Homo sapiens: one gene and its partners. The protein of the gene in region 2 interacts with the protein of the main gene of each other region in a biochemical or structural test. Each region holds a gene or a part of one and is shown on either strand. Other genes may lie near its edges.

Evidence for each region.
Region 1: the proteins of XIRP1 (region 2) and FLNC form a complex in vitro, tested with the Homo sapiens proteins (2 studies listed by BioGRID and IntAct, with this or other methods).
Region 3: the proteins of XIRP1 (region 2) and NEBL form a complex in vitro, tested with the Homo sapiens proteins (one study listed by BioGRID and IntAct).

What each region holds. Positions count from the first base shown.
Region 1 is NC_000007.14:128,833,379-128,840,484, reverse strand, and holds part of FLNC (filamin-C), read right to left. Parts: intron 5,160-7,106; coding exon 4,911-5,159; intron 3,326-4,910; coding exon 3,228-3,325; intron 3,088-3,227; coding exon 2,937-3,087; intron 2,849-2,936; coding exon 2,730-2,848; intron 2,499-2,729; coding exon 2,421-2,498; intron 2,219-2,420; coding exon 2,056-2,218; intron 1,883-2,055; coding exon 1,682-1,882; intron 463-1,681; coding exon 325-462; intron 1-324.
Region 2 is NC_000003.12:39,189,550-39,196,960, forward strand, and holds the start of XIRP1 (xin actin-binding repeat-containing protein 1), read right to left. Parts: upstream 3,047-7,411; 5' UTR 2,897-3,046; intron 1-2,896. UniProt on the Homo sapiens protein: Protects actin filaments from depolymerization. Required for correct cardiac intercalated disk ultrastructure via maintenance of cell-cell adhesion stability, and as a result maintains cardiac organ morphology, conductance and heart beat rhythm.
Region 3 is NC_000010.11:20,824,237-20,831,342, reverse strand, and holds part of NEBL (nebulette), read left to right. Parts: intron 1-36; coding exon 37-147; intron 148-2,708; coding exon 2,709-2,813; intron 2,814-4,803; coding exon 4,804-4,896; intron 4,897-7,106. UniProt on the Homo sapiens protein: Binds to actin and plays an important role in the assembly of the Z-disk. May functionally link sarcomeric actin to the desmin intermediate filaments in the heart muscle sarcomeres.

The DNA of each region.
Region 1 (7,106 bases), on a different chromosome or scaffold from region 2:
AATCCCCTCAAGGAGCCATTGGGACCCCGACCCAGCCCGAGGGCAGTGCTGTAGTGAGCAGTGCTGCAACTCAGGGCAGGGAACACTTGTCATCCCTGTGCATAACACCCCGTATAGCACTTAGGGTGGAGAGAATCATTCCTGGCTTGTAGACCAAGAAACTGAGGCAGAGAGGAGACAATGAGCCTGAGATTCTGGGGTGCCTCTGGTCACTGTGGAGCTGTGGTGCTGGCTGTCACTGCCCTCTGGGAGTCAGAACCACTGGCCATACTTCCCTTATGATCCCCCAGCCCCACCCTCACGACCCTGGGCTCTGGCACTCACTTGGCCCCTTGACCGTGACCTTGAGCTCCCCGCTGCCGGCACCCTTGGTAAACACCTTGAAGTCAGCCACCTCTTTCACGCGAACACCCTTGGGCTGCAGGCCTCGCCCAGAGGCGCGGCAGGCGTTGGGGTTACAGGCTAGGGGAGGAAGAGAAAGGAGGTTGGGGGTGCTGAGGGGCCTTGGACCACTAGCCCCCACCTCCCTGTGCACAGTCCTTCTAACCCCTCCCAGGCACAGGCAGTGGCCCACGGCCCTGCTCTGGAGCCCTTTGTGTCCCCAGCACAACCGGGGCTGCCGGGCTGGAGCTGGCTACAGGCCCCAGATCAGGCAGGTTACAAGAAAGTTTCCGAGCCAGTGCCACTGGGGAAATGCATGGCAGAGCCTGGGCTGAGAGTGGGCTCAGAGAGACAGGGAAGGCCCCTTTACCCAGCCCAAGGCCATCCATCTAGAGCCCTCTGGGCCTCTCAGGGCACCAAAGCAACCTTAGGATCTAAGTCATGCCACAAAACATCCAGCAATGCCACAGAACAAGGGCTACTTCATAGAACTCGAAGCCTGCCATACAACACAGGCAACGTGTGGACATCAGCCTACCACAGACCGTGGCCAGTGGCAATGAGCCCAGGCCTTGCTATGGAACACAGGCAAAGGAATGGGAATCTCAGCCTGCCACAGAATCCAGAAAAATGGCATGGGACCCACAGGTGCTACGAAACAGGACACGACACATATTCCAGGACTACCATGACCATAGGCGATGGCACTGCCCAAGGGGTACCACGGAACACAGGCAATGGCTCAGAGCCCAGATTTCATCATAGAAATCACCAGGCAAGTGGCAAAGACACTAGACCTGCCACAGAACACAGACAACGGCATGGAACCTGGGGCCTGCCACAGAATGCCAAGGAAGGGGGGGCGATTCCACACGGCCCGGGCCATGCCACACAGCACAGGTGAGGCCAGTCAGCTGCGGCCATGCCTGGCCCCGCCTCCACTGGAGAGCATTAATGTGGCATCACTCTCGGCCTGGTGGACGATGGGCACTGAGTGCAGGGAGAGAACAAGTGGGGCAGTCACCACCTGAGGGCTTGGCATGCAGGCAGTACTCCCTAGATATGCCCCCACCCATACAGCCCCGTCACTTCCGCTCAGCCCTCCCAGGGTGGCACATGTTCTGGGACCCTTCACTGTGGCCTCCCAGCTGTGCTCTTAGGAACTCCAGCCACCTTGGGGGTGGGATGGAGGACTCAGGGAGGGGGTCTCTGCAGACCCCCGCCCCAGCTCTTCCTCCTGCCCCTTGCAAGCCTCTGGCTTTGGTAAGGGCTACCGTGGGGAGCAGTGAAGGGCCCTTACCTTCCGACACATGGACAGGGAAGGGACTGCGGGTGATGGGGGCACCCGCAAAGGCCACATGCACGGTATGTGGCCCCTCCATGGCAGGTCTGTATGTGCAGCGGAACGTGCTGTCACCCTTGTCCTCCAGGGCCACCTCCACTGTGTCCCGCCGGCCCTGTGGGTCCACGATCACCACAGCAACATCGCCAGTGCCGGCCCCTGCCGAAAACAGAGGCTGTCAGCACCACTCTGGACACACACAGCTGCCCCGGTGCCCTCACCCTGAGGCTGCCCACCCTCTGGCTGGCATCCCTGTCCCAGCCTCCCCCCACCCCCACACAGCCCCACATGGTCAGGGGCTTTCCACCTGCACCCCCTGGGGCCCGTCCTACCCGCAGTGTAGATGTCAAAGTAGGTGGGTTTGTTGGCCACATTGCCCACAGGTTCCAGGCCAGGGCCACGGGCTGACACCTTGTTGGCATCTCCCAGGGCCATGCCCACGTTCACCTCAAAGGGACTGCGTTCAATGTTCTGGCCAGCAAAGAGCACGGTCACCTAGGGGTCAGAGGTCAAAGGTTAGCTTCTAGGGGAGAGCAGTCCTGAGAGGGGGCAGAGGGGCACAGCCAGGCCAAGGAGGGTGAGAGGCGGGCAGCTGGGGCTCTGGGCAGGCGCGAGGTACAGGCTGAGAGAGGGGTCCATGCAGCCGGAACCAAGGATGTGAAGAGCAGCGCAGGCAGGGGGGCCTAGAGGGAGATACCTTGTGTAACCCAGCGACCTTGGGCACATAGGAGACAGCATAGGTGCGATCCTTGTCATTGTTGGGAACCACCTTAGCCTATTAGGAAGGAAAAAGATTGGAAGCCTCTCCAATGACCATAGCCCCTCCTGACCCCACAGTGCCTTATGCACCCCAGCCCCACTCAGCCCCCATGGTGACACCTTCCCCAGACTGCACAGCACAGTGTGTGGCTCTGGCAGTCACCTCCGGGCCATTCCTGTTGTTGGCCCCACGCTCTCTGGTTCCAATCCCAAGTGAATCCCTCTGTCCCCAGCGGCCTCTGCATACCTCCTCGGTGTGGCCTTCAGGGTCCTCGATGTAGACCAGCACCTCGCCCACGCCCGCGTCCACCGTCTGCACGGTGAAGTGGGCAGGCTGCAGCACGGTGTTGCCCTGTGGCTCGATGCCTACGGGGCAGGAGCAGAGCCCAGGTTACTCAGGGAGAGCCTACATGTGCCCAGCTGCCCAGGAGGGCCGCCAGGGGCTCACACATACCAGGCCCATAGGCGATGGCTTTCTTGGGGTTCAGCTGCTTGGATCGAACAGGGGCACCAGGTTTGAGCTTGGCCTTGGGGAACTGGGACAGGTAGGTCATAACAGAATGCTCATCCACGTTGGGGTCCACAATCTCCTCAGGGGCAATGACCTGCGATGGAAAGGAGTGATGTCACATGGCGCCCTCTTTTCCCAGCAGCCCCAGTCTCCCCCTGCACCCTGGCCAGGTAAACTTACAGACCCAACCTCTGCCCCTGCCCCCTTTCCCCCCTGCCCCATCTGCGCATGTACCTGGGGCACCCCAAGCCAGTCGTCGGCCTGCTGCATGGCCTCCCGGGCGTTCTCCACGGGCTGGTTGGGGTCCCAGGCCTCCCAGTCGGGGCAGAGACCTGGAGAGGTGATGGAGGGAGACGATGGTGAGGGGCAGCCAGCCGGCCAGGATGCAGGGCATTTGTTCACCCAACACCCTCAGAGGCTGTGGCTTTACACCCCTTCCCACCAGCTCTAGGCCTTGACCAGCCAGGTTCCTGCTGACCCCATCAGCTTCGAGGCCCCTCACCACGTAGGAGCAGGACAGCCCTCTCCACCACCAACAATGAAGCCTTTCTGCCCTGGCTGACGCAGCCTGGCACCAGCCCTGCTGGCCGGCCTCCTGCCTGCCCAGGCCCCAGCTCAGACCTTGAACCCCAAACCCTGGGAGGGTACCCCCTCTCGCTATCTCTTGCCTCATTCAGCTTTCTCAGGGGTGGGCAGAGGAGGTCAGAGTGCCTGTCCCACATATGCCCCTGACCCATCCCCCCTAGAAGGCCTCCTCACAGCTGCCCCGAAGCTCTAGAACTCCAAACGCTTTCCACACCAGTCTTAGGGTATGAGACTCCCTATTCCTTCTAACTGCTCACTTGGGGAAACTGAGGCATTAAAGGGCCTGTGAGGAGAGAATGACTTCTCCTCTGCAGCCCTCAGGAGCCCTGCCTTCCTAACAGGAAGGACGCTGAGGCAGCCCCAGATCACTCCTATGAACGGTGCAGGTGAAGGGGCGCTTGGTTTAGGCCAGAGCTGGAGGAGGGGGACGGCACACCGTTTCGGGGAGGGGGCCGGCTCAAGGCTGGAATCCATGACTGGCTGGAACAGCTGAGCTCACTGCTGGCAGCCACACCAGTTATGGGCCATGGCTCAGCAGCTGGGAATGCTTCCCAGGAGGCTGTGCCCCCGCCTCCCACCCTCTGCTCCCCGGCTGACCCCAGGGTGGAGGAGGATTCTCCCGAGGGGCTGTGACTCCTGGAGAAAACCTATCTTTTCAGGAGATGAGGGGCAGAAAGGGAGCTGTCCATGGGGTACGCTCTAGCCAGTGATGCCTCAGCTTTTTTCATGGCCCCTGAGCTGTCCCCACTTGACCAGGCCAGGACCTACACGGAGAAGGGGCAAGGCTGGCTCACCTGCCACCAGGCAGTGCCCCACTGGCCTCATCCCACATCATCCTGAGCCTCAACCCCTTCTCAAAGTCATCCCAGGGTCTCCCAGAGAAGAGCCTTCTCTGGATCTAACTCCTGGTCTTGCTACAAGTCCTGGTCACCACACTGCCTCTCTCTCAGCTCGGCAGGAATAGTGCCTCGTGGCACAGTAAAAAATTCATGGGGCAGGGAGTCCAGGCCCTGGGCTCTAGGTGGTTCTGCCACAGATAAGCTGTGTGATCTTGGATAAGTCACCAGCCCTCTCTGGGCCATAGTGTCCTTGTCTGTAAAATGAGGGGTTTTAAACCTCTTCCTGCCTCTGCGGAATCTGGCACACTCATCAGGTAGGGCCTGCCACCAGCCAGCGGAGAGCCACAGCTGGAGGAGGACAAACCCTGCAGGGGATCCTGGCCCCCAGGCCCCAGGGTGTGCATTCTGACAACCACACGCCTTGGCAGCCCCAGCTTGTCCCCTCTGTCTTTGGGAGCTAAGGGCTCCATGCTGTGCTCACTGGCCCACTCACCGGGGGCGCAGTTGTCCACCAGGGCGCCCAGAGCTTTGCCGTCCTGCCAGTCACGGTTGAAGTTGGTGATGGGCAGCTGGGGCACCTTGTTCTGGATCCAGCCAAGCAGCCGCTGCTTGGGCGTCTGTTTGCGGGCATCCTCATCATCTTCATCCTCCCACATGGGCATGGAGATGGAGTAGTGCAGGATCAGCGTCCAGATCAGGCCCAGGATCAGCTTCAGGTTCCCATCCACGATGGCCTTGCTGTCTGCAGAGGGGAGGGCACAGACGGGCTCAGGGGCGCCCCACCCTCCACTGCCCCAGAGCACCCTCCCTCACCTGCGCAGCTCCTCGGGCCAGAGCTCTGGGGTCAGGCCTCTAGTCTCTGCCTACCTGACCCTCTCCCTCCTGCGAGGCCCCACTCAGATGCCAAGTTCTTTATGGGGCCCTTCCGGTCAGAAGGCTGCTTCTCTGTGTTCCTGTGGTTCTGGAAGGTACCCTCACCTCAGCTACAGCAAGTGAGTCTGCCTCCTGTCTATGTAATTACCTGGTTTCTTTCTGGCCTTGTGGGATTGTAAGGCTCCCAGGGCAGAGCCTTTTTGTTTTGTTAACAGTTCTACTGAGCTATGATTGACATACAGCAAACTGCACATGCTAGAGAATGAAGTTTGAGAAGCTTTGACACTATGGATATATCACGAAGCCGTCACCACAGATGGAGAATAACGAAGGTACCATCCATCACTCCCCAAAGTTTCCTTGCACACACCCCTTTGTGAGCCCTCCCTCCTGCCGTCCTTGTCCCTCCATCCCAAGCAACAACTGATCTGCTCTCTGTCACGATAGATTACTTTGTATTTCCTAGAGTGTTATATAAATGGAATCACACAGTATATACTCTCTTTTTTTTTGGTCTGGTTTTTTTCACTCTAGACACTAGGTTTTATCTTTCTACAATGAAGGTCTTAAACATAGTAAGGTCTCAATAAATATTGGTTGAATGAATATTTTAAGAACTGAAATTGGAGTGGGGTAGGACAAGTTTCCACTCACACTCTACCCCGAATGCCAGAAAGGGCTTTAGAAACCAAGGGGTTCTGATAGTGGGGCAGGGGTGGGTGGGTGGGGTCCAGTACATTCTCAGTTAAGTCTTGAAAGTCATGTTGTCAAAGGCTGGGGGCCAGAGGGACTCCAGCCTCAGGAGCTGACACACTCCACCCATCACCTCCTTTGAGGAATCCTTTGAGCCAGAACTGGTTCCTCAAGATTTGGGGGGGGGGGGCGCCTAGATCCCCCTTAACAATCAGAAAGAAATATCCAGAAGCCTGGGGTGGCCTAGCATGTAGATAGATCTTTGGAATTCAGCTTACTTGTAAAGGGCAATGAAGTTCTGAAATCTATCAGCTTCCCAAAGCACTGCTTTCAGGAGGCTGGAAGGGGGTGGAAGACAGTCTTGTTTACTGATGTTGCCCGAGAGATGGGAGAGGGTGGAGTGGAGCCTTCCCCTTACACATCTTCTCCCCTCCACCCTTCCCCAGGTCTTGGGGAAAGTGTTAGGAGACCGAGAGCCTGGGAAATCCAGGGCATCCCCTGCCCCACTCCCACCTGCCCCGGGAGGGGTGCCTCAGTCTCCCTGTCCCTCTGGCTGGGGCTCTGGCCGCCTGGGCTCCCCCACCCTGTCACTGATTCATCCTTCCTTCCCCAGCAGCTCCCCAGCCCACCCCCTTCCCCTGGCTCCACTGCAGCACAATGGTTTGGCAGCTTTCAGATTCCATGACACACTCACTCCCTGCCTCCCGGTGCTTTCTCTCAAACACACAGGCTCCAACACTTTCACACAGTCTGGATGCCCCAGTGCCCCCAGCCTCTCACAACCCCGACAGCCTCCAAAGCTCACACGCCCAGAAGTACTTCTTGCAAACTGGAGCCAGACCCCTGGGCAGGAAGCCTTGAGGCTGCAGGGGTTGGGGGGGGCGGTGTGTATATGGGGAGGGTGGTCATTCATATTTGCTGGAGAGGGAAGTTTCTCCCCAGCAACTGGCCCTGGGCCAGACAGCAAGTGGTCCAGGCTTGGGGCAGGAGAAGGGCAGTGGGGCCCCAAGTCCCACTCTGGAAGCAATGACCTCCCTCTCCCTCCTCCCTCTCGGAGGCCAGGCAGAGGAGAGGAGCTCAGCGCCACCAGGGCTCACCAAGCCACTTCTCCATCTGCCTAGGG
Region 2 (7,411 bases):
GCTCAGAGTCAGAGTAGCTCTGGGTGACTTACGCTTAGAGACTCCTTCCCTCTCTCTATGTGCCTGGCCTGGGCTTCACTTCGCTGCCTGCATGGTTCGTGGGCAACAGGTCTTGAACTTAGGACATGGACCCATTAATCATAGTGGGTTCCTGCTTTCCCTACATCTCATGCGTTGCTAGGGAGTGACCATGGTACCACTGGACATGAGACACTTTCCTTTAGCTCCATAAGGGACGCATAAACCTCCAGTGGGCAAACTGGACATGCCCCATCCTCACCTTCCTTTGTTAAAAATCAGTGTTTCCCTGGAAGACTGCCAGGGGAGTGGCCTGGGGGAATCCTGACTTTTGGAGTCCCAGCCTTGGAGAGGCAGGTCTCTAAACTGGTGACTGATTTCCTATGGAGACGAGATTCCTTTGCAGAACACCAGAGGGCAGACTTGCCATGTTGACCTGGAACGCTGCCTAACTTTTACCTCTTGGCTGTCAACGCACTCCAACCTTTCCCAGGCCCAAGGAGGCAAGCAGAGGCCAACAGCCCATGCTAGAGCGGAAGCAGTTGAGAATCAGGGCTGGGAAGCTGCTCATCAGATATCTCGTGCTTAGGCCAGATCCAAATTCTGAATATCTGGTCAGGGTTTTCTGCATTATACTCGAAGACTGAGAATGTCTGAGCTAGGGGGATCTCAAAGGTCTTTTAGCACAATCATTTATAAATAAAGATGAGGGAACTTAGGCCCAGAGTCAGATCTTGGTGAATAAATGGAAGGCCGTGCTGGCTTGGGGTCCCTAGACTCCATTTAGGGCATGGCCCCAAGAAATAAGAGGGTAGCAGGTGTAAAGCTTTCTTATTGGCCATAGAACCCGTCTATTCCCCAGCAGGCACCCCTGGGAGGATATGAGGGTGACAACAACCAGGGAGAGGACCATGGGATCAGGGTCCTTTCTGCAGAGACAGCCCTGCCTCTTGCTCCTGGATACCGCTCTCTAAGCAAGCAAGCACAGCTTCAGGGGCTCGGACTCAGGGGGGCTTCAGGCTAAGCCCTACCCCTGCAGGCCTCATGGCCACCCCAGCTCAGCCTCTCCCCGGCTACACCCCCGCCCCTCAATGACCTACCACCCCTCAAGCCCTTCTCTGGTCTCTGTCCATGTATGTCTTATCTCTCTTGTGACAGGTGTACTAACAGTCCCCAGAGGCCAGTAGGGAAAGAATGGGAAGCACGTGCCCCCTCCTGCTGCCCCTGACCCACTGCTCTGCACCACACAGGGTGCTAAATATAGCTGAGGTCCTGGCCTCAGAACAGCAGCCCTGGGCTCAGAGGGAGGCTGAGGCCCAGCCAGTGGGGACCCTCAGTACCCTTGGCTCACCTCATCTCCTTCATTAGCCTGGGCTCCCCTATCCTGCCTCCTGGGCTGGTGTCAGGCCCCTGGGCTGCAGGCCAGCCAGGTGCTAGAACCTGGACACCTTCCCTGGCCAAAGGAGTCTGCACTGGGGGGAGGTACTGGAAGTAAGTGGGGCAGGACTTCCTCCCTATGGCTACCTCAGAAGGAGGAGAGAGGAAACTGAGACCTGCTGACCCCATGCCCACCCTGGCATGTCCACCAAAGACATCAGAACCTTTGGGGAATGTGAGCTCTGAAACCTGCAGCCTGAGTCTCATCAAAGCTCTGGGTGGTTTTCTTTCATTTCTGAGCTCCAATGAGGATCCCCTGCCCAAGGCAAACCTGAGCCTGTCTCCACCTCTACTCCATCCTGTCACCACCAGGGTGGCCTGAGCAGATGGTGTGTGCACACCATCAGCTTCACCCCACCCCCGCCCCCAGGAATTTCCAGAATCTCTGCTAAGGCCACAGACAGTTATTATCATGGAGTCCAGGGATGTCAGGCCTAAGGACCCTCAGAGGTCACTCAATCTAAACCCCTTATTGTTCAAATAGGGAAACAGAGGCCCAAAGAGGGGAAAGGAGCTGTCCAAGGAGGCTCAGCAAGGCAGTAGCAAAGCCTGAAGCATGTCTCCTGACTCCTGGCCTTCCCACCACCATCTTTGCCTGGCTTGAGACTGCTGGGACAAGTGTAGAGTCAGGACAGAATTCATAACTGGGACCAGACTTACGTGGGGTGAGCCCCAAGAACTGTCCTAGAGCTTGGTCTCCTAGGGCTGGGCCAGCCTCTCAGGATGGTCCCCCTGCTGTCCTCGGGTCACCTCCTCCTTGGCCCAGCTGGCTCCATATGTCTTTACATCTGGGCAAATTCAGATCTGGTCTCCCTCCCGTGAGCCCCCCAAATCTGCCCTGGGGGCTTTCCCACTGGGCAAGACTATGGACATGGGCAGAGTCCGAATTCCACCCCAGGTTTTAGGCTATGATATGTAGGGAGCTGGGCTCCGGCCAGCCCCTGGGAGCTATCCCTGGGCCAGATATGCCAAGAGTGTCATCCACAACAACTAGGCATGGGGCTTGTTCTAGCAATGCACACTCAGGCCTACTTACAGCCCCCTGCCCCCACCTCTCTCCTGTTCCTCCTTCCTCCAGATCCTGGGCCTGCCTGAAGCTTCCCTGGGAGGAAGCCCTGAAGCCTGAGGCACTCCATACCTGTATTTTAAAAATCACAACTCCAGGCCTTTCTGGATCATGCCAGCCTGGCAGGAGCCTATCCTTTCTGCTAGCTTCAGGCCTGTGGCAGCCACTCTGAGAGCTCCCATGGGGCTCACACTGTCTTTACCTCCTTTGTGGGTTCTTTATGTCTGAGACTTCCACTCACCTCCTCCCATGCATGCCCCTCAATCTCCTTCCCCTACTCAGAGCCATTCCTAATACGTCCATTTCAGAAGGAGAGGGGATCCCAGCTGTGAAAGCCAGCCTTGCTGTGGAAGGATGGAGAGGTAGGTTACTCACCAAGGGTCTCTCTTGGCTGATGGGGTGTTTGTGGTCTGTAGCAGCTGTGGTCTCAGGGTTCGTCGTTCCTCTGGAGGTTCTTGTTCAAATTGGTTCTGTTCTGCTGGCTCCAACAGACACCTTCTTGCTGCCCTGGCTCCAGGTCTCTGTCCCCTGCCAGCCCCAGCAGCTGCCTTTATCTTGCTGGCTAGTGGGTGGGCCGTGGTGGGGGCGGGTGGGAGAGGCTATGTTCCGAGTATTAAGTGGTTCGGTTATTTTTAGGTCTTGTGGAAGTCACTCTTCCATCCTGGGGAATCAGTTACATGTCCTTTGGGCTGGGGAGGGGAAACAGAGGGGGAGAAGCTTCATTCATCCAAAGTCTGATCTGGGGATTGGGGTCAGTGACTCAGCTGGGTTGTGAGGTTGGGGGTGTCCCAGACTATTTTGAGAGAGTGACTAAGAAGAGGCATCTGACACCTTGGACAGCTTGCTCCCGTCTTGTGAGCCCCCATCATTCTACTCTGGCCCTGCCTCTGACTCTTCCTGACGTGTCTCCACCCACCGTGCCAGGAGACTGGAGGTCTCCTGAGGGCAGGCTGGGCACCTCCTCCTCTGTTCTGAGCCTGGATACCTCTGAGTGTGATGCTCAGCTCTCTTTCTTCCCCATTCCCTTCTGCACTAAAGAGTTCCTTCTTTCTTATCCATTCCACCCTGTGCCCCACAGCACAGGTCAACACAGCCCCGATGAAGCTGGATTTGGGGGGAAGACATCTGAATGACCAGGCCCAGCTCTTCACTGGGCCGAGATTGGCCAGGCCCAGCTCCTCCTTTGCACCACTACACCCAGTTAATTTTTGTATTTTTAGTAGAGATGGGGTTTCACCATGTTGGCCAGGCTGGTCTCGAACTCCTGACCTCAGGTAATCCACCTGCCTCGGCCTCCCAATGAATGAATTCCACAGCAGGACTCTATGGTTTTCATTCCAGATTATCTGAGTCCTTTCTTCTCGACTCTTCCCTCTGACTCAGGGCCCAGGCTTTCTGGGAATGGAGGGGAGGGGAAGGGCGGCATGCAGGGAGCTGACCGTGGGGTTATTTCTGACCCTGGAGTCATCAGCTTCCCAGTCACAGATGGAGTGGCGGCGGGGGTGGGGGGGTCACACCTGCCTCCTCCTTTGCTTACCAGGGCGTGAGGGGCCCAGGAGGCCCAAGAGATCCTGGCAGTCAGACCAGTGTGGTGAAGGATGTCAGGGGACCATCTGCAAAAAACTCGAAAGAGGTGTTTTGTCCTAGGTGGGCCTGGCCCAGGCTCCATGCCTGTGGGTATGCAGGTGCATTCTGTGGCCTGGCACATGAGGTCTTCCTTCTGACTCCCCAAATGCCCTCTGGTACCAGGGGGTGATGCCAGACATTGCTCACTTTTTCCATGTAGTCAATGTCAGTCCTGCAGCGTCAGCTGGGATGGGGGTAAGGACATCTGGGAACCCCCTCTTCCTGGTCTCCCTCCCTCTTGTCTCTTCCCCTGCTCTTTTCTAGCCCTCTGCCTGTCCCCCAGGCTCCTGGCTCTCTCTAGGAAGGGCAGGGAGACCGATGTACCAGTGTTTCAGGGAAAGGGCAGCCTTAGGTTTCTCAGGATTTCTCCTGGGAGGAGCTTTCTCCCTGTGGGTACTGAAATTTCTTACTTTCTAGGATAGTTTTGAGAATTGAAGGAATTATTATATGAAAAGAGTGCCTCCAGCCAGGCACGGTGGCTCACGCCTGTAATCTCAGCACATTTCGGCAGGCTGAGGCTGGTGGATCACTTGAGGTCAGGAGTTCGAGACCAGCCTGACCAACATGGTGAAACCTTGTCTCTACTAAAAATATAAAAAATTAGCTGGGTGTGGTGGCACACACCTGTAATCCCAACTACTTGGGAGGCTGAGGCAGGAAAATTGAATCTGGGAGGCAGAAGATGCAGTGAGCTGGGATCGCACCCCTGCACTCCAGCCTGGGCGATAGAGCAAGACTCTGTCTCAAAAAAAAAAAAAAGTGCCTGAGAGTACTTAGCACATAGCCTATGCTTTAGAAGAGCCAGCTATTATACTGTATATAATATAAAAAGAGAAAAGCCCCTAGGTGGAACTCACTTTTGTACTCACCTCCTGTGATAACTCATGGGAGAAATTCCTCAGGCCTCAATATTAGGAAAGAGGCTCTTCCTGAGCACTTGGTTTCTTTGTATCTAGTACAGCTGTGCTGTCCAATAGAGTTGCCACTAGCCAAATGAGGCTATTTAAATTTAAGTACATTAAAATGAAATAAAATAAAAACTCAGTTATTTCACTACACTAGCCATATTTGAAGTGCTCCATAGAGACAAGTGGCTAGCAACTATTATATTGATTTTGTTTGCTTGTTTGTTTTTGAGACGGAGTTTCGCTCTGTCGCCCAGGCTGGAGTGCAGTGGCGCGATCTCGGCTCACTGCAACCTCCACCTCCCGGGTTCAAGCGATTCTACTGCCTTAGCCACCCGAGTAGCTGGGATTACAGGTGTGTGCCACCGTGCCCAGCTAATTTTTGTATTTTTAGTAGAGATGGGGTTTCACCATGTTGCCCAGGCTGGTCTCAAACTCCTGACCTCAGGTGATCCACCTGCCTCCGCCTCCCAAAGTGCTGGGATTACAGGCATGAGCCACCGCACCCAGCCTGAAACTATTATATTGAATAGTGCAGAATGTTTGCATTATTTCAGAAAGTTCTACGGATAGTGCTGTTATAGATGTTAAAATAAATAAGAAAATAAATTTTTCTGGAAGGAGAATTGTCAATAGAATAAACAATTTTTATGACATATGGTGTTTCTCTTTGACTTGGCTGCTAGGAAACTCAGAGCTAAATTTTTAACCTAGCAAGTAGACTTTATGGTCCAAATCCTGTGTAATGAGGGTGACCAACTTTTTGTTGTCTGTCTCTGAGGAGTTTTGCAAGACAAGGGATGTTCAGTTTTAAAACTGGAAAAGTTCTAACAAAACCAGGACAAGCTAGTCACTCTATGTGTAATGATCTAATGATATCACATCATCATGGTATTAATTATGAGGCTGTCAAGATAGTAAACTAGGCATTATTTACTGGAGTATCTTTAGTGGTATTAAGAAGGTAAACTGAGGCACAATAAATTTTTTAAGAGTTTATTTGTGCAAACAACAATTTTTGAATCAGGCAGTCCCAAACCAGAAGTGGCTTGGGAACTCTACTGAGGGAGCACAAGCGGGAGGTTTTTATAAGACAGATACAGAAGTAAAGCAAATATAATATTTGATTGGTTACAGTTATACAGTTGCCTTATTTGATCTATCCCATTGGAAAGTCCCTGGTTATATAATTATTTGTGCTGGCTGCTTCTCATTAGTTGCACTTAAGTTTTATTTTTCTTTAATATAGGCATTTACAAGAAATAGCTCAAAGGCAGGCATGGTGACTCACACCTGTAATCTGAGCACTTTGGGAGGCTGAGGTGGGAGGATCACTTGAGCCCAGGAGTTGGAGACCAGCTTGGGCAACATAGCGAGACCTCATCTCTACAAAAAATAAAAGAAAATATTAGCTGAGTGTGGTGGCATGCAATTGTTGTCCCAGCTACTTGGGAGGCTGAAGTGGGAGAATCGCTTAAGCCAGAAAGGTGGAGGCTGCAGTGAGCCGTGATTATGCCACTGCATTCCAGGCTAGGTGGCAAAGTGAGATCCTGTCTCAAAAAAAAGAAAAGAAAAGAAAAAAGAAAGAAGGAAGGAAAGAAGGAAGGAAGGAAGGAAAAGGAAGAAAGGAAGGAAGGAAAAAGAAAGAAAAAGGAAGGAAGGAAGGAAGGAAAGAAGAAAGGAAGAGCTCCAGTTTTGCATGTCTGCAAATCAAGCAAGGGTAAGGTCCCTTACGAGACCTAACTTGTTTTGCCTGCTCAGGGATGCTTCAGGTCTGAGCTCCATTTTTTTAACAGTGGAGATACTGTGCATCTATTTCTTTAAGCTCTCTCAAATCATTTTGGGAACGAGGCTGGAAATAAATAAATATCCTGAGGTTGAACAGCTGATCTTTGCCAACAGGCAGAGAGGTGCTCGGGGAGGGGGTATGAGGGAAGGGTGGTTCCCTTCCAGCTATCGCAGTCCTCTCTTTGGGAGCCTACTGGTTTTTAGGGTCCAGGGCATCATCTCCTACCAGCCCCTCCCTCCAAGTAGGGCTCCATCAAAGTTGGGTTTGGGCAGAAATTCACGCATAAATCATGAAGGAGCCGAGTAAGTAGCTGGCAGTTGACTCACTTCAAGTTTCAGGAGAGACAGGATTCGAGAATGATAGGAGCCAGACTGCTTGAGGCTGAATCCTACCTGTGACACTTAATAGCTGTGCAACTCCTGGCTACCCTGGCACTGGCTGGCAGTCCTGGCTTCCTGCTGGCTGGGAAGCAGGCACTGGTGCCAGGAGGACAGCTTGGGCAGCCAGGCTGGCTCTGTTCCAAGCCTGCAGGTGAAGGGTCTGCTCAGCCTCTTGATACCAGAGAAGAAT
Region 3 (7,106 bases), on a different chromosome or scaffold from region 2:
TAAGCAAAGCTCTAAGATTATTTTCTGTTCTTTTAGAAACAATACAAGAAGGACTTAGAAAATGAAATTAAAGGGAAAGGAATGCAAGTGAGCATGGATATCCCAGATATCCTTCGAGCCAAGAGGACATCTGAAATCTATAGCCAGGTTGGTCATGAATGAAGATGCTCAGAATCGTGTATTCCAATGTCATGTTGCCATGTGCTTTGTATGTCTCTATGAATGATATCTTTCTGAGGGCATTGCATTCAGAGCTAGTGTACTCTTTCACTAAGAAACCATTGGCCAAACTTGATTAACCGTACTAATTAATAGGACAACAGTCATAGATTCAATGCAACAGACATTATGGAGAGCTACAGCCTCTCTGTCGGGGCTCCTTGTTTTGAGTCCAAGGACATTAAACCTTTTTTTTTTTTTTTTTTTTTTTAAATTTTAGAGATGGAGGTCTCACTCTTTCACCCAGGCTGGAATGCAGTGGCACCATCATAGCTTGCTGCAGCCTCAAACTCCTGGGCTCAAGCTTATCTTCCTGCCTCAGTGGGCATGAGCCATTGTGCCCAGCCCAAGGATATTTTAACCTTTTCTTTCTTTCTTTTTTTTTTTTTGACCCTATTGGACACTTGGCTCAAATGCTTTTGCTAATACTACAGAAAAATAAATTACAAACGTTTTGTCTTTTAACCATTTCATAATGAATATTAATATTAAAATAGTTCCAAATAAAGCTAACAGTGGCTAAAGCTGCACAAGGTATAAAGTGAAGTTTAGTGTTAGGTAAAAATTAAGGGAACAGTGAGGTTTTCTTGGTAAAATTTAGATTTGTCAAATATACTTGTCCCATATTCTGTAAACAAAGCTGGATGTGGGAGAAGTAGTGACCACAAAAATTTATGGAAGAAGAATTTATTTATAAAATCTGACTTGGGCAAAAACATTCATTAGCAAATAATATCTTTGCTGTAACATTTACTAAAAAAGAATGACTCCCAATGGAAAAAAATAGAAGGAATGAAAAAAATGAAAATGGTTATTTAAAATTGACCATAGCATTTAATTTGATTAATGGAGTTTATGCAGAAAGGATTGTGTAACAACATTTGGTGAAATTTGTTAAAATTCTGATTAAGACATAAGCAAGGACATTAACCATCCACTAGTTCAAAAGGGTAGTATCAAGATGGCAGAGTCAAATGTCAGAGGACTTGTGTGCCTCTCAGCCTCCGCAGCCGACACAGCCGCTGGGATGATCCTGAAGTGTGTGTTCTGTTCTCAGTGTTCGTGAACTTGGAGACATTGGCTTGGCCATATCAGCTTAACTAAAATCCTAAGTCAATGCATTAAACAACAAATAGACATTTGAGTCAGTGGAGAAGAGTTACTTACTCTCTCAAGAATGCCAAATTCATTCCTTCAGTAGGTAAATACCTCCTGAGCACCCATTTGCAGGCAAAACTAGACATGGCTTTGCTCTTGGAAAGCTACAGATAAATCTAATAATCATGTAAATATAGTATTACAACCATGATATATACACCTGAAAGTAAAAGTATTGAGAGTGAAGGTGCCTGAGCTGTCAGATTTCCTGCATTAACTCAACAGCATAGATTTTTTTTTAGTGTGGTGTGAGAATATATCTAATTTTAAGGGATTTTAATCACTGAAATACAATTGGGATACTTACGAGGGTGTAATGAAGCCTGGTGCATTTCAACATGAATAGTAGTTACCTTTCTTTTTTTTTAATTTTATTATTATTATACTTTAAGTTTCAGGGTACATGTGTACAATGTGCAGGTTAGTTACATATGTATACATGTGCTATGCTGGTGCGCTGCACCCACTAACTCGTCATCTAGCATTAGGTATATCTCCTAATGCTATCCCTCCCCCCTCCCCCTACCCCACAACAGTCCCCAGAGTGTGATGTTCCCCTTCCTGTGTCCATGTGTTCTCATTGTTCAATTCCCACCTATGAGTGAGAATATGCAGTGTTTGGTTTTTTGTTCTTGCAATAGTTTACTGAGAATGATGATTTCCAATTTCATCCATGTCCCTACAAAGGACATGAACTCATCATTTTTTATGGCTGCATAGTATTCCATGGTGTATATGTGCCACATTTTCTTAAGTAGTTTGCCAGAATAATTAACTTCACTGATTTTGGAATCAGAGAGCCTGGTTTTAAGTTGAGGCTCTGATACTTACTATCTAGTACTTCAGTTTCTCCATCTGTAAGATGGAAATAATAATAGTATCTGCTTGTCAGGTTGATTAAATGAGTTAGTGTGTGTTAAGTATTTAGAACAATACCCATTACATAGTAAGTACAATGTAAGTGCTGGTACTAGGATAAGATATTGCCTGGGTTGTATTAGAGCTCATAGTAGCTCATTTAGTGGAGAGAAAATTAAGATTTTAATCTCAACTTCAAAATACTGTTAACTTTCCCTTAATCAAATCTATCTTCACATGAAGTAGGAAGCAAAGCGTAAATCTAGAAGCCATGTCGTATGGTAGAGATCGAAGAATGGTATCATTCTATCTCTGTCTCTCCACCTCTCTCTCTCTCTCTCTGGGAGTGTAAGTCAGTAAAAACAGTTTTTTACTCTCTCTCTCTCCCTTCCTCCTTTCCTGCCTCCCTCCCTCCCTCTCACATGTGCGCACACACATAGTTTCAGATTTATATTAACTGTTTATGTTTTTAGAGAAAGTATAAAGATGAAGCAGAGAAGATGCTTTCTAACTATTCTACCATAGCAGATACTCCTGAAATTCAGAGAATTAAGACAACTCAACAAAACATTAGTGCGGTGAGTAGCCATTACTTCTTTTAAGTTGCCACCTTGAAATTTTGTTTTGTAAGAAATGGTCTTTTTTCCTCATTGTCTGATGTTTTCTGCTGTCTTAGTTGAATTTTCTGTCAAGTGTATTATCTTTATTTCTTTAAAATAATAAGAATACTGATAATTTTTACAAATTATCATTTTTCATTATTTTTTTGGAATTACAAATTCAAAATTTCCTCTTCGGTATAAATGACAGTTATTAACTAAATTTTAAAATTTAACTCAGGAAAGAAGTCTGTCTTCTACACAGATTTTACTTTGAAGGTGAAAATAGTCATATGAAGTGATTTTATTCCTGGTTATTGATTGTTTTTACTGATAATATGTCTAACCATTTACTCATTCTTAATAAATTTCTAAACTTCTATATTTTTATTTTGAGGAAGAGGAATTGCATCAGCACTTTTTTTTTTAACTTTTATTTTAAGTTTGGGGGTACCTGTGCAGGTTTTTACATAGGTAAACTTGTGTCATAGGGGTTTGTTGTACGATTATTTTGTCACGCAGGTGTTAAGCCTAGTACCCATTAGTTATTTTTTCTGATCCTCTCCCTCCCCTCCTTCTTCACCCTCTGATAGGCCCCTGTGTGTGTTGTTCGCCTCTGTGTGTCCATGTGTTCTCATCATTTAGCTCCCACTTATAAGTGAGAAAATGCGGTATTTGGTTTTCTGTTCCTGCATTAGTTTGCTAAGTATAATGGCATCTAGCTCCATCCATGTCCCTGCAAAGGCCATGATCTCATTCTTTTTTATGACTGCATGGTATTCTGTGGTGTATATGTACCACATTTTCTTTATCCAGTCTATCATTGATGGGCATTCAGGTTGATTCCATGTCTTTCCTATTGTAAATAGTGCATCAGCACTATTAATTAAGAGGCTGAGTCCATTAATAAATGTATAAACTTGACTTCTGTTCTAAAATTGTAAAAATTGACCATACAACTAATATTTTAACATAGAATTAGCTCAGTCATTAATAGTTAAGGAAGCATCTCATCAAAATATAAATTCTAGTAAGTGTGAGGACTTCTGGAATATTTCCTACCTCCTAATTAGTTGGCAAGCGCCAGCTCTCAGAGTAAGCTGGTCAGATGTCTGCTGGGTCTCCACAGGGATGGCCAGGCTGTACTGAGAAATGGGAAAGTCTTGATGGAAGGATGAGGAAAAGAGGCTGTGTGATTCTATAGTGTTCTGTAGTTCTAGCCTTTGGAGGAAAACATCTCTCCTACCGTGCTCTCCCACCCACGCGGGGGCCACTGGATTACCAAATGTCAAGAAAGGGAGTAATTCTATCCTCATTTACCTTTCTTATAATTACTCTGTTTTTCTGCAGAGTACTCATAACGAGGGCACTCATAAATACTCTTGTGTTTTTGTTCTGCTTTGGGTTTGGAAGGGTAGACGTTAGTAGGGGTGGAGACACATGGGAGAGGGTTAACAAATAAGTGGAAGATGAAGAAGATAGACTTGAAATTAACATTGATATTGATGATGAGCTAACATTTTCTTGGAAGAGAATGTGGGCATCCTTGTGTTTGGAGCATAGAAGTTGCCTAAAATGTCATTTTCTTTTTGAATTCAGTGATAACGGCTTAATGGGCTTTTGTAATATCTGCTTTTTCTCAAATACACATGGGACATATATTTATATTTGAAGAAAGGAACTCTGGTTTGCCAATGTGTATTCTTAAAGCAAATAATCTGCAGTCAGCCATGGTAGTGGTCTAGACCTAGAGCAGGAGAGGGTTATTTGTGAGATTATGGGATATAAAACCAAAGTTTTCATGGATTATCTGAATGGATTATTTAATTTGTTCCTATAATTCCGGCACTCATAAATAGATGCAGTATTCATATTATTATAAAACCTGAGAAATTGTCTTTCTAAGAAGCGGATCTAGGACTTGAATTCTGACAAGCTTAGTTATTCTTTTCCTTTTCTTATAATAAAGGTATTTTATAAGAAAGAAGTGGGAGCTGGCACTGCAGTGAAAGATAGCCCAGAGATCGAACGAGTGAAGAAAAATCAGCAGAATATTAGTTCAGTAAGTTCTCTACAGCATTAATTATCTTTTCTAAAAGCAAACCAAAACTATAGACAAATGTTTTTAGTTCTTTACTCAACTGATGGCTTTTTTCCTTTTATTCTTCACTTTATTGAAATGCTATTTCATCATATATCAAAGATCTAACTTTCAGAACAAAAACTGTATCCTTGTTCCCCTTGACTCTGAAGCAGTGTTTCATTTTGATATATCACAATGAAGAAGAGCTAGGTCATTTTAATGAAACCTAGGGTTAGATTTCATCTCTTTGAAGAGAATTTTAACTCTATTAAATTTTGCAGAGAAAGGATACATTTCAGTACCTCTCCACAAGTTGGAAGAAAGAAATTTTTCCCTGATACAATGATTAAAGGCCCCAGAACATTTATTTGGCAGCTTAAGTGAAGGATTAGATTTGAAAAGGCAAATAGTACCAGTTCATTTTTAACCGATGTCAGTCACATCTCTAAGCTTTTTATCAGACACGCTTCTGCCCATTTCTTCTTTCCAGCCTGTTTTACCTTCTGCTTCTTCCAGCAGAAACGAAAACAAATCACACATCTTCACTATAAATTGTGAAATAACTTAGCTTCCAGTAACCTTTAGACTGGGGGGAGGGGTCCTCTTCTGTTGGAAGGGTCCTTCTAACATTAAGGTGCTTAATATTACGGATAAATTGTTTTTTCCATTGAGTGTTTGACATTTGCTGTGGATAATTGCTCTCCTTACCAATTTGATATTCTCCCATGTATATTTAGTACATTGAGTTTCTTTTTTTTTTTTGAGACAGAGTCTTGCTTTGTTGCCTAGGCTGGAGTGCAGTGGCGTAATCTCAGCTCACCGCAACTGCCTCCCAGATTCAAGTGATTCTTCTGTCTCAGCCTCCCGAGTAGCTGGGATTACAGGCACACACCACCACACCTGGCCATTTATTTTTATTGTTTTTATTTTTAGTAGAGATGGGGTTTCACCATGTCGGCCAGGCTGGTCTCAAACACCTGACCTCAAGTGATCCTCCCGCTTCAGCCTCCCAAAGTGCTGGGATTACAGGCATAAGCTACTGTGCCTTTCCGTTACATTTAGTTTCTTGAGGAAGTAAAAAGGATTCGTTCTTTAAATCCCTTACTCTGACTTATCTTTTCACCTTATCCTTGGAAAGAGCACCTTCCCTTTAAGTAATCCAAGCAGAATTGCCTTGATTAGACTCATCTGTGGGTCACTTGGTCATTATGCAGCATCCAGAGAATATCAGTGTGGGTCAGCGTTTGTGAAGAAAGTGTAGGAGAGGTAAGAGAATGCAATAGTAAAGTATACTTCAAAATAAAAGCATAAAAAGTCTACAGAATATGAGTGCAATAAAACCTCTGTAGCACCATGGAGCTGTCTCTTGAATAAAGTGTAAGGAGGACCTAGGCTTAAGGTGTGGATGAGAGTGGATGAATGTGTTCTTCTGATCTTTCATGGTGAGAGCCTGTGTTAGCCTGGTAGATGAATTAGGTTGGGAGAGAAGTATAAAATATTCATTGCTTCTCTTTCCAATGATAATATTTAAAATGCACCCATCGATGTACTGTGGTTTAATATTATAAATATTCTGTAGTGTGCAATTCTATAGACTACAGTGAAATAACTGTGCCATTTTGATTAGAGTCCCTTTGAAAAACAAAAGTGTTCATCTTTAATCATGTTAAGCTTCTTACCTGAGGAAAATCCCAGAGTATTACAGTATATCATTTCTTCTCTTAGCATCCCACAGCCTCTTCTAGCAAACAATAAATGCATAGTTCTGTATCTGCATGAGGTTGGGCCATAAACTCCTGCTTAGTATTCAAATGGAAAGTTGCCCTTTTAAGATTAGCTAGATCTGTCAAACCAAGATATGATTCTCTAACATTTAAAGATCTCGACATTTTCCACCTCCAGAGTACAAGCCTTTTAGCTGTTAGCTCTCTGTCTTAAGAACTATTTTTGAATTTTATTTAGAGGTAGCCTGTCTCAGTGAACTTCCAATTTAACTGTTTTGGGTCTGGACTAATATTGGCATTGTTACTTACATGAAATCCACAGATACTAAGACATAGATGATATCTGAGATATTTAGGTACTGTTTCTTTATGACAGTCTGCATGGTTTTCACCCTTAATCATTTTAAACATTACCAGGTGATTTCTGAAACATGTTTCATGTAGATTTAGATATTTACTAAATTT